Linked DNA regions of Homo sapiens. The protein of the gene in region 1 interacts with the protein of each later gene in a biochemical or structural test. Each region holds a gene or a part of one and is shown in the gene's direction. Other genes may lie near its edges.

Evidence for each region.
Region 2: the proteins of TLN1 (region 1) and ITGB1 form a complex in vitro, tested with the Homo sapiens proteins (3 studies listed by BioGRID and IntAct, with this or other methods).
Region 3: the proteins of TLN1 (region 1) and ITGB3 form a complex in vitro, tested with the Homo sapiens proteins (6 studies listed by BioGRID and IntAct, with this or other methods).

What each region holds. Positions count from the first base shown.
Region 1 is NC_000009.12:35,704,596-35,708,342, reverse strand, and holds part of TLN1 (talin-1), read left to right. Parts: coding exon 1-2; intron 3-450; coding exon 451-612; intron 613-854; coding exon 855-995; intron 996-1,089; coding exon 1,090-1,271; intron 1,272-1,442; coding exon 1,443-1,575; intron 1,576-1,791; coding exon 1,792-1,893; intron 1,894-1,976; coding exon 1,977-2,147; intron 2,148-2,231; coding exon 2,232-2,381; intron 2,382-2,491; coding exon 2,492-2,593; intron 2,594-2,672; coding exon 2,673-2,792; intron 2,793-3,527; coding exon 3,528-3,674; intron 3,675-3,747. UniProt on the Homo sapiens protein: High molecular weight cytoskeletal protein concentrated at regions of cell-matrix and cell-cell contacts. Involved in connections of major cytoskeletal structures to the plasma membrane.
Region 2 is NC_000010.11:32,909,552-32,913,298, reverse strand, and holds part of ITGB1 (integrin beta-1 isoform 1A precursor), read left to right. Parts: intron 1-1,174; coding exon 1,175-1,413; intron 1,414-1,628; coding exon 1,629-1,851; intron 1,852-2,843; coding exon 2,844-3,076; intron 3,077-3,747.
Region 3 is NC_000017.11:47,251,788-47,255,534, forward strand, and holds the start of ITGB3 (integrin beta-3 precursor), read left to right. Parts: upstream 1-2,039; 5' UTR 2,040-2,074; coding exon 2,075-2,153; intron 2,154-3,747. UniProt on the Homo sapiens protein: Integrin alpha-V/beta-3 (ITGAV:ITGB3) is a receptor for cytotactin, fibronectin, laminin, matrix metalloproteinase-2, osteopontin, osteomodulin, prothrombin, thrombospondin, vitronectin and von Willebrand factor.

The sequences.
Region 1 (3,747 bases):
AGGTAACTCAAGGGAACAGGGACCACAGGCGAGTCTGGGAAAGGGCAGACCGACCCCGTGGAGTAGAGGGAGGTGAGGCATGTGGGAAAGAGGGCAGGGACCCATCTCTGACCTTGCACACACAGCTTCTTTTTGGGTAACTGTCTTTTTCTGCCATGGGTCTCATCATTTATCAGTTACTGCTAAATTCACAACTTCTCTGTAGATGTTCGAGCTTACTCTCCCACATGCCCTCTTATGGTTTCTCCATTAGTATGTCTTTCCTCTCCCATGCCCAGTTCATCTTTGGGTATCTCTGTCTCCTAGATCTTGACTTTTCAGGTGACTCTGTTATTCCTGTTTTGACTCCTCAGGGTATTGCTCTCCATCCCCTGACCCTAAAATGGCTCCTCCTTGGGTATGTACACCTCCTTCCTGCCCTCATCGTGGCTCTTCCATGTGTCTCCTCAGGTGCTCTCTGCAGCCACCATTGTGGCTAAACACACCTCTGCACTGTGTAACAGCTGTCGCCTGGCTTCTGCCCGTACCACCAATCCTACTGCCAAGCGCCAGTTTGTACAGTCAGCCAAGGAGGTGGCCAACAGCACAGCTAATCTTGTCAAGACCATCAAGGTTCCCATTGCTTGAATTCCCAGCCTCTCCCTGACCTGTCCTATCTTCTCCCCCGAGTCCCCCAGTTATTCTCTGAAGCCTTCTACCAAATCCCCTCTGCCTGAGCCCAAGCTCTTTCTATTCAGACTGACCACCTAGCCTCTCCCCAAATCCTGTAAGTCCCAGGAAGGAGACCTGGACTTCACTTCCTATACCCCCTATGACTGCATCCCAAGTCCTGAGAGCCTCTCTGTCACTTCTAGGCGCTAGATGGGGCCTTCACAGAGGAGAACCGTGCCCAGTGCCGAGCAGCAACAGCCCCTCTGCTGGAGGCTGTGGACAATCTGAGTGCCTTTGCGTCCAACCCTGAGTTCTCCAGCATTCCTGCCCAGATCAGCCCTGAGGTGAGGCGATGTGAAGGGGGAACTGATGGGCCAGCTTATCACCTCATCTTCCAGGGACTCCTGAGACTTACCTTCCTGCCTCCCCTCTCCCCAGGGTCGGGCTGCCATGGAGCCCATTGTGATCTCTGCCAAGACAATGTTAGAGAGTGCCGGGGGACTCATCCAGACAGCCCGGGCCCTCGCAGTCAATCCCCGGGACCCCCCGAGCTGGTCGGTGCTGGCCGGCCACTCCCGTACTGTCTCAGACTCCATCAAGAAGCTAATTACAAGCATGAGGTATTGAGGGATGGGGAACCAGTGTGGCTGGGGGGCATACATTGTGGCAGAATGGAGGATGGGCACTTGAGTGCAATGAGATGGGATGGTGTTGGGAGGATACAGGGGAAGGATAGGCTGGCCTTGCAGTAGGGGATGTTCTTGGTGTTGGAGCCCATGATGTGTCTGCAGGGACAAGGCTCCAGGGCAGCTGGAGTGTGAAACGGCCATTGCAGCTCTGAACAGTTGTCTACGGGACCTAGACCAGGCTTCCCTCGCTGCAGTCAGCCAGCAGCTTGCTCCCCGTGAGGGAATCTCTCAAGAGGTGAGAGGGAGAGGGTTATATGGAAAGATGTGTCTAGGAAGAGAAATATCAGACTCAAAGAAGCTGGGGGATCAAGGAGTGGCTTCTTAGGGACATCAAAGGCTGGGATGTGCGAAGGAGGGTTAGGGTATTTGGTATGGACAGAAGAGCAGTTCTTTGTAGCCAGAGGGTCCTATTGCAGGTCACCATCAGGGCTAATGTCCACTTCCTCCCCAGGCCTTGCACACTCAGATGCTCACTGCAGTCCAAGAGATCTCCCATCTCATTGAGCCGCTGGCCAATGCTGCCCGGGCTGAAGCCTCCCAGCTGGGACACAAGGTACCTATGGAGACTCATGGGAAGTCCCAGGGAGTAGGGTGAGAGAGAGGGGACCTGACCCCTAGTCCAACCCCTTGCCTCAGGTGTCCCAGATGGCGCAGTACTTTGAGCCGCTCACCCTGGCTGCAGTGGGTGCTGCCTCCAAGACCCTGAGCCACCCGCAGCAGATGGCACTCCTGGACCAGACTAAAACATTGGCAGAGTCTGCCCTGCAGTTGCTATACACTGCCAAGGAGGCTGGTGGTAACCCAAAGGTATTGAGGGTTGGGAGGGAGGAGCTGTTACTAGCAGGAGGCTGGAGAAACAGGAACAACAGAGCTCCTCTCCTCTCCCCACAGCAAGCAGCTCACACCCAGGAAGCCCTGGAGGAGGCTGTGCAGATGATGACCGAGGCCGTAGAGGACCTGACAACAACCCTCAACGAGGCAGCCAGTGCTGCTGGGGTCGTGGGTGGCATGGTGGACTCCATCACCCAGGCCATCAACCAGGTTAGAGTCTTGGGGTGCCTTTGGACACTGAGGCTACCCTGGGCCAGAGCCTCCAAGCACAGTGGCAGAGACCCTAACAGTCTTTCCCTTTCCCTATCCTCCCCCCTCAGCTAGATGAAGGACCAATGGGTGAACCAGAAGGTTCCTTCGTGGATTACCAAACAACTATGGTGCGGACAGCCAAGGCCATTGCAGTGACCGTTCAGGAGATGGTGAGTTTGGGCGAGTCCCAGAGGACTGCCCTCGGAGAGCTGACTTTGGATATAACTTCACTCGTTCCATTATCACCAGGTTACCAAGTCAAACACCAGCCCAGAGGAGCTGGGCCCTCTTGCTAACCAGCTGACCAGTGACTATGGCCGTCTGGCCTCGGAGGCCAAGCCTGCAGCGGTGGCTGCTGAAAATGAAGAGGTAAACGTGGAGGCAACTCTGCCCTGCCCCCTGCCCCTTGTTCCTGATGTGTCAGTGTCTAGGGCTGTCCCACCCCCACCCTCTCTGGTCTTTCATAGAAAGGGGAACAGCCTCAGGGCCACTCTGCTGAAGACTAGTGAGGCTCTGGGTAGGGACAGAGGATCAAAGCCTTCAGTCACAGGTACAAAGGAAACAGCTCAGAATCTGGAGCCTTCCCGGGCCTGCCTTTCTGGCTTCTGCCGACCCTCATCTGGGCCTACAGCTGCTTCTCTGTTGTGCTGCCAGTCCATGTTCTTGTTCTTTCTTGTTGCAAACTCATGAAGCTCTTCCTTACCTAAGCCTCTAGCTTTCCAAGAAAGCAAGTAATTGGATCTTAGCAGGACACATGTAATGCCCATCCTTAAAACCCTCCATAACCCCATACAGGCCACATGGTAATCCACGGCCCTCTGATTCCCACATTCAAGCATAAAGTGCTCCTCCCCTTCTCCCCACTGTGCTTAACACAATCCTCACCACTTAGTGCCTGCGTGCTACTATTTTCTGTGTGTAGGAGGTGACCTTCTGCCTAAAGGATATGCAACCGGAAACGTCCTTGTGCTGGGAACCTTCTCTCTCTGCTTCTTTAGTCTACAATGCATGTTTTTTTCTATGTCCTTAGTGACTTTTCCAAGCACAGTGAAGGTACCCTGAGTGCCCCTTGTAAAATCCATCTGTCTTTCCCTTGGCTCACAGATAGGTTCCCATATCAAACACCGGGTACAGGAGCTGGGCCATGGCTGTGCCGCTCTGGTCACCAAGGCAGGCGCCCTGCAGTGCAGCCCCAGTGATGCCTACACCAAGAAGGAGCTCATAGAGTGTGCCCGGAGAGTCTCTGAGAAGGTGACGGTGCTCATCCCTGCAGATGGTGGGACTGCCTCCAAACTCTGTAGCCTTTGCCATCCTCCTCCAGCCC
Region 2 (3,747 bases), on another chromosome or scaffold:
TTGTTCCGTTGCTGGTGAGGAGGTGCATTTCTTTGGAGGAGAAGAGGTGCTCAAATTTTAGAATTTTCAGCTTTTCTGCTCTGGTTTCTCCCCATCTTTGTGGTTTTATCTACCTTTGGTCTTCCATGATGGTGATGTACAGATGGGGTTTTGGTGTGGATGTCCTTTCTGTTTGTTAGTTTTCCTTCTAACAGTCAGGACCCTCAGCTGCAGGTCTGTTGGGAGTTTGCTGGAGGTCCACTCCAGACCCTGTTTGCCTGAGTATCACCAGCGGAGGCTGCAGAACAGCAAATATTGCAGAATGGCAAATGTTGCTGCCTGATCCTTCCTCTGGAAGCTTCGTCTCAGAGGGGCACCGGGCTGTATGAGGTGTCAGTCAGCCCCTACTAGGAGGTGTCTCCCAGTTAGGCTACTCGGGCTCAGGGACCCACTTGAGGAGGCAGTCTGTCCATTCTCAGATGTCAGACTCCGTGCTGGGAGAACCACTACTCTCTTCAAAGCTGTCAGACACGGATGTTTAAGTCTGCAGAAGTTTCTGCTGGATTTTGTTCAGCTATGCCCTGCCCCCAGAGGTGTTGTCTACAGAGGCAGGCAGGCCTCCTTGAGCTGCAATGGGCTTCACCCAGTTTTAGCTTTTTTTTGCTTTGTTTACCTACTCAAGCCTCAGCAATGGGGGATACCCCTCCCTCGGCCTCCCTGCTGCCTTGCAGTTCAATCTCAGACTGCTGTGCTAGCAGTGAGCGAGGCTCCATGGGTGTGGGACCCTCTGAGCTGGGCATGGGACCCTCTGAGCCAGGCGCGGGATATAATCTTCTGGTGTTCCGTTTTCTAAGAGCATTGGAAAAGCGCAGTATTAGTGTGGGAGTGTCCTGATTTTCCAGGTACCGTCTGTCACAGCTTCCCTTGGCTAGGAAAGGGAATTCCTTGACCCCTTGTGCTTCCCGGGTGAGGCGATGCCCCGCCCTGCTTCGGCTCACACTCCATGGGCTGCACCTACTGTCCAGCAAGCCCCAGTGAGATGAACCCAGTACCTCAGTTGGAAATGCAGAAACCACCTGTCTTCTGTGTCGCTCACGCTGGGAGCTGTAGACTAGAGCTGTTCCTGTTTGGCCATCTTGGAACCTCTTAAATTATTTTTGTTTTGTGTGATTGCAATTTTGGCATGTTTCTTCAGGTGCAATGAAGGGCGTGTTGGTAGACATTGTGAATGCAGCACAGATGAAGTTAACAGTGAAGACATGGATGCTTACTGCAGGAAAGAAAACAGTTCAGAAATCTGCAGTAACAATGGAGAGTGCGTCTGCGGACAGTGTGTTTGTAGGAAGAGGGATAATACAAATGAAATTTATTCTGGCAAATTCTGCGAGTGTGATAATTTCAACTGTGATAGATCCAATGGCTTAATTTGTGGAGGTAAGTAAAGGGCCTGAAGTGGTTGTAAGATGTGATCCCATCTAATGCCACGAAAAATCTTGAGTTTAGTTGGTGCATAAGTAGAAAAGGGGTAGCTTGAGGGTCAGTCTCGCCCCTAGGTATACTTTCTCACATGTTGTTGCTTATTTTACTTTTCAGTCAATACTGTGATTGTATATTTTTACCATTTTGAGAAATGATATGCTTAATTGCAGGAAATGGTGTTTGCAAGTGTCGTGTGTGTGAGTGCAACCCCAACTACACTGGCAGTGCATGTGACTGTTCTTTGGATACTAGTACTTGTGAAGCCAGCAACGGACAGATCTGCAATGGCCGGGGCATCTGCGAGTGTGGTGTCTGTAAGTGTACAGATCCGAAGTTTCAAGGGCAAACGTGTGAGATGTGTCAGACCTGCCTTGGTGTCTGTGCTGAGCATAAGTAAGTATTTCCTAATTGCTTGAAATAGTTGATACTTCCTCTTGGCTCTCCTAAGCCTGTATTGTTTCTAGAACCAGAACAGTGCCAATATTAAAATATACTGTAAATAAAATGCCTGCCATGTGGAAGCCTACTCTTTAATTCTTAAAAGTTCTTTCTCAACAGCTAGTATATATTACATGGTATGAAGTGTGTCATGTGAGAGTTGTACTATTATTTTGATCTGAATGTGCTAGATAATTGAATTTACATGGTAACCTTTATTTTGGCAATTAAGATTTAATTTAATTTAATTTGTCATTACCAATTTCTTAATTACTGTCTTTTGACAAAACTAAGCCAAATTAAAGATTTTTCCTCTTGAAGGATTATTATACTAGTAACATATTATTTAAATTATTATGATTTTGGCCGAGCACAGTGGCTCACACCTGTAATCCCAGCACTTTGGAAGGCCGAGACAGGTGGATCACTTAAGGTCAGGAGTTTGAGACCAGTCTGGCCAATGTGGTGAAACCCCATCTCTACTAAAAATACAAAAATTAGCCAGATATGGTGGTGTGTGCCTGTAATCTCAACTACTTGGGAGGTTGAGGCTTGCTTGAACCCGAGAGGCAGAGGTTACAGTGAGCCAAGGTCACACCACTGCACTGCCTGGATGACAGAACAAGACTCCATCGCAAAAAAAAAATTATTATGATTTTATGTTACATATTTAATATGTGATAGGGCTAATTTATTTTACTATCTTTTATTTCTTAATAGGGTTTTAATTTGAACTGTAATAAATCTTTAATTTTATTATGGAAATTAGCATCTTTTTACATAATTTTTCTATCCACAAATGTAATGTTCCTCTTCATTTATTGAAATCTTCCTTCATAGCTGTTTGTTCAATTTGGTCACAAGAGTTTAGCATGGGAAATATGTTTAAGCAAATATTTACTGAAATAATAAAATGTAAATATCATAATTTGTGTTTTTTGTAACAGAGAATGTGTTCAGTGCAGAGCCTTCAATAAAGGAGAAAAGAAAGACACATGCACACAGGAATGTTCCTATTTTAACATTACCAAGGTAGAAAGTCGGGACAAATTACCCCAGCCGGTCCAACCTGATCCTGTGTCCCATTGTAAGGAGAAGGATGTTGACGACTGTTGGTTCTATTTTACGTATTCAGTGAATGGGAACAACGAGGTCATGGTTCATGTTGTGGAGAATCCAGGTAGAAATGCGATGATTGCAGACATTCTTTTCATATCTTGTATGTCTTGTTTCTGCTTATTTAGGCCTAACATCCAGAAACAGCCTCCAGCTGGAATATTTTAGGTCAAGTTGGGAAATTTTTCATCTCTCAAAGCTTAAAATATTATCTAATTAACTGTATAAGAAATAAGGAAAAGAGAGTTCCACTTTTAAGTTTTCTGAGTGGAGAGTTTGAAGATTAAATACAGTGATTTATATAAGACGCTTAGTGATTTATATAAGACACTTAGAACGATGCCTGACACCAAGTGCATATTAAGAGTTTTTTGATGATTGATGATTTTAAAATTAGAGCTTGATTTAAGCTTGAATACTGGGAAAGATAATTTGTTAAAGGATATTAATATAAAGTGTTGAATTTGTTCAACTTCTCCGGAGGTGAAACTTTTTTTTTTTAATCTTAGTTTTCCTAGTAGCCTTTTTGTAGATTCTTTGGAATTTTCTACCATAGTGTACATGTTTTTGTGTGAACATAAGCTTTCATTTCTCTTGGGTAAATACTAAAAATGGCATTTTGGAGCATATGGTAAGCATATGTTTAACTTTGTTAAGAAGCTGCCAGACTCTTAGACTCCCATACTGTTTTGAATTATCAGCTAGGTGTTTTGCAAATATTGTCTCCCAGCCTGT
Region 3 (3,747 bases), on another chromosome or scaffold:
ACTAGTTTTTCAGATTAACTTTGGAATGCCCTTGGCTGAGAGGAAGGGTTAGTTCAGACAGTTGTGGGGGGGCTTATAATGTTATTTTTAGTTTACAGGTTCTTACAATTTACATAGAATTGTTCAATATTAATTCAACATAGGCTACTGTATGATAAGTTAAGGAGGAATATTGTAATACCTAGAGCAAACACACACACACACACACACACACACACACACACATGCAAACGAGGTGTAGCTAGGAAGCCAGTAGAGAAAAAAAAATTATCCCAAAAGAAAGCAGAAAAAGAGAAACAGAGAAACCAGCCAAAAAGATAGAACGAATAACAAGATAGTAAATGTAAACACAACCATCAATTACTATACTAAATGTGAATGGACTAGCTCCTTTGCCTTCCCTGGGGCTGGGAGTGCAGGATGGACTCACTTGCACAATTATGTCATGTTTGCTAGGGCTTGGGCTAGGGTTGTGGACTTAGCATACTTGCTGAGGCCAGTGCCCACCCCAAGTGGTTGCTGACAGCAGGGATAGGCTAAGGAGACACCTAAGTGGCTGGAGATTGGTTTTATATATATGGGAATGGAGCAGATAACTAAATACTTAGGCAGAGATGTAACCAGGCCATGTGACCTGAACTTTGCTCCAGGGCATTGACACTGCTGTTAAAATGCTTCTGGCCTAGAGGCCCTCTGCAGCCAGGGGAGGTAGATGGAGCTTCAGCCTGAAAACCCAGGTCAGAGGGCCCAAGTACCCTTTGCAGAGCTGGCTTTTCCCCTTGCAAATTGCTAGTGACGCTTCAGCTGATGTGTGTTACTATTAAGGTCCTAGTGTTTGGGAGGGTGGGGCAGGAGGTGGAGGATTGTCAGAAAAAAATTACATGGAAAAAGATGGCATCTGAGATGTTTTGAAAGATAAGTGGAATTTTCCAAGTGGAAAAAGGAAGGAAAATCAGTCAGATAGGAAGGCATGGAGCATTGGGGAATGACAAGTATCTTCTTGGACTAGGGTGGGAGATGGGCTGGAGAGATGGGTCAGGGCCAGTTGTCTGGCATCTTGTGTGTCTCAGAAGAGGGTGGGCACGCTGCGTAGGGAAGCCCAGGGCCACTCTGAAAGCCCTAAAGGGGAACTGATGCCTCTGGCCTTGTTTTTATCACCATCAGGACTACCCATTGAGGCAGGCTGCACTACCAGCTACTTCCTGGTGCCCTCTTGCTCATAGCCATAGTATTTTGCCTCTCTGAGCTTCCAGAGGTTTTAAGTCTGGGGAAGACCCAGGGACTCAAAGAAAGATTGGGGTGGGAGATAAGGGGCCACAGTTTGGGGGAGTCAGGCAGGAGGCCTTTGAGGAAAATAGATAAAGTCCCAAAGCCTGTGAGTGTGAATTTGGAGGCAATATGCTGTGTTCTGAAACGTTTTCAGACACTGGCTAGGTGCAAGCAAGTGTTTGTAGGGCGAGGCTCTTCATGGACCTATCACTGCTTACGCAAGCTTGGGATGTGGTCTTGCCCTCAACAGGTAGGTAGTCTACCGGAAAACCAAACTAAGGCAAGAAAAAAATTAGTGAATAATAAAGGACTGAACCGGTTCAGAGAAGGCATTCAGCAGATGTTTGCCAGTCAAATGAATTAAAGTGTGAATGAATGAAACTCGAGGTAGTGGGTGAATGTGTCCCAAGAATCCAGCGAAACAGGGTCTCCCAGGAGGCGGGACTGGAAGGGTCCGGAGAGGGGCCACAGGCTCCTGGCCTTTCTAAGCACACCAAGTGCCCAGTCGCGGACCCCCGGGACCAGGATGCGCTGACGACCCGGCTGGCAGGCGGGTCCTCGTGGGCGAGGCGAGGGAGGCGGCGAGAGAGGAGCAATAGTTTCCCACCGCTCCCTCTCAGGCGCAGGGTCTAGAGAAGCGCGAGGGGATCTAGAGAAGCCGGAGGGGAGGAAGCGCGAGTCCGCGGCCCGCCCCGTTGCGTCCCACCCACCGCGTCCCCTCCCCTCCCCTCCCGCTGCGGGAAAAGCGGCCGCGGGCGGCGGCGCCCACTGTGGGGCGGGCGGAGCGCCGCGGGAGGCGGACGAGATGCGAGCGCGGCCGCGGCCCCGGCCGCTCTGGGCGACTGTGCTGGCGCTGGGGGCGCTGGCGGGCGTTGGCGTAGGAGGTGAGTGAGGCTCCGGCTCGGCAGCGTCGCAGCTGCCCCAGGATCTGCGCCCCGGTCAAGTTGCGGACTTGGAGCCGGCAAACGCGGAGGGCTGGTCCCGCGCGTCTGCGCTGGGAATGCGCGTGTCCTGGCTGGCGCGGTCGGAGCCGGGAGCTGGGGACCTTCCTGGCCCGGCGGTGGCGGGGCTGAGAGGTGCCTGGTGCCTGGGAGCGGGTCCTCCGAGACGCCGAAGCCATCAGCCAGGCTGAGCGCCTTCCCGGCCGCCGCGGCGCGCACGGTGCGGTGGGCGCATCTCTGAGCCCCGCGCTCACCCGGGGCTGCGCGCGTCGCGGGTGGTCCTGGTCGGGCCAAGGACGACTGGCCCAGGAGCCAAGGCGAGGTGGGGCTTCCGGGGGTTGTTCCCGCGCCTTGGCAGAGGGATGCCGCTGTAGCTTCCTGGGTGAGAGCGTGCGCGCGCGCGGGTTTGCCAGTTTCCCCACATTTCCAATTTCTCCTGTTACGCTTTCTCCAGAAGGTTTTTTCTTTTCCTTTTTTCTTTCTTTCTTTCTTTTTTTTACCTTCAACTTGGCTTCCTGCGGGGTTGTTTTGGAGCAGGATGAGGGCTTTGCCTCCTCCAGTGTCCCCAGGTGGCAGCGGTGCCTCTGCTCCCAGGGCAGACCCTGCACCCGAAAAATCTCTAGTGTATTCGGGGAGCCATGAAAAGGCTCCCTTGGGCCGGTGGGATCCTTGGCTTTGTCTCTGGCTGCTGCGCACACCGTCAGCCGTCAGGGCAATTGGCATTCGGCCTCTTTGGTACTGGGGACACAGGTGGAGGGATGGAGCGGGCACAGCCCGGGGTTGCTGCCCGTGGTCCTCTCTGAGTCCTTGGTGATTTTGCCTGGGCTGGAGAGAAACCCTGGCTCCTGGTCTGCTGGGGCCGCCTCTGCCTCAGAGGATGACACAAGAGTGCATGTAAGTATTTTTAATAAAAACTGTAGTACTCGTAAAACAATCTACACCCTGCAGAAGGGATTTGTTATTTTATTTTATTATTTATTTATTTATTTATTTATTTTTGAGACGGAGTCTTGCTCTGTCGCCCAGGCTGGAGTGCAGTGGTGGGTTCTCGGCTCACTGCAACTTCTGCCTCCTGGGTTTAAGCGATTCTTCTGGCTCAGCCTCCCGAGTAGCTGGGATTACAGGCGCCTGCCACCACGGCCGGCTAATTTTTGTATTTTTAGTAGAGACGCGGTTTCACCATGTTGGCCAGGCTGGTCTGGAGCTCCTGGCCTCAAGTGATCCGCCCACCTCAGCCTCCCAAAGTGCTGGGAATACAGGCGTGAGCCACCGCACCTGGCCAGGATTTATTTTAAAAAGGGAAGATTTGTTGATAAATTCACTTCAAAGATAAACTATTCGAAAATACTTTAGTGATTCCCGTCAAGACTCTTCTGTGTATGTATAGACGTATAACTCATTCTGGACAGGGCAAGGATATCTTTTTTTGTTTGTTTGTTTGTTTTGAGATGGACTCTCGCTGTCGCCAGGCTAGAGTGCAGTGGCGCGATTTCAGCTCACTGCAACCTCCGCTTCCCGGGTTCAAGGGATTCTCCTG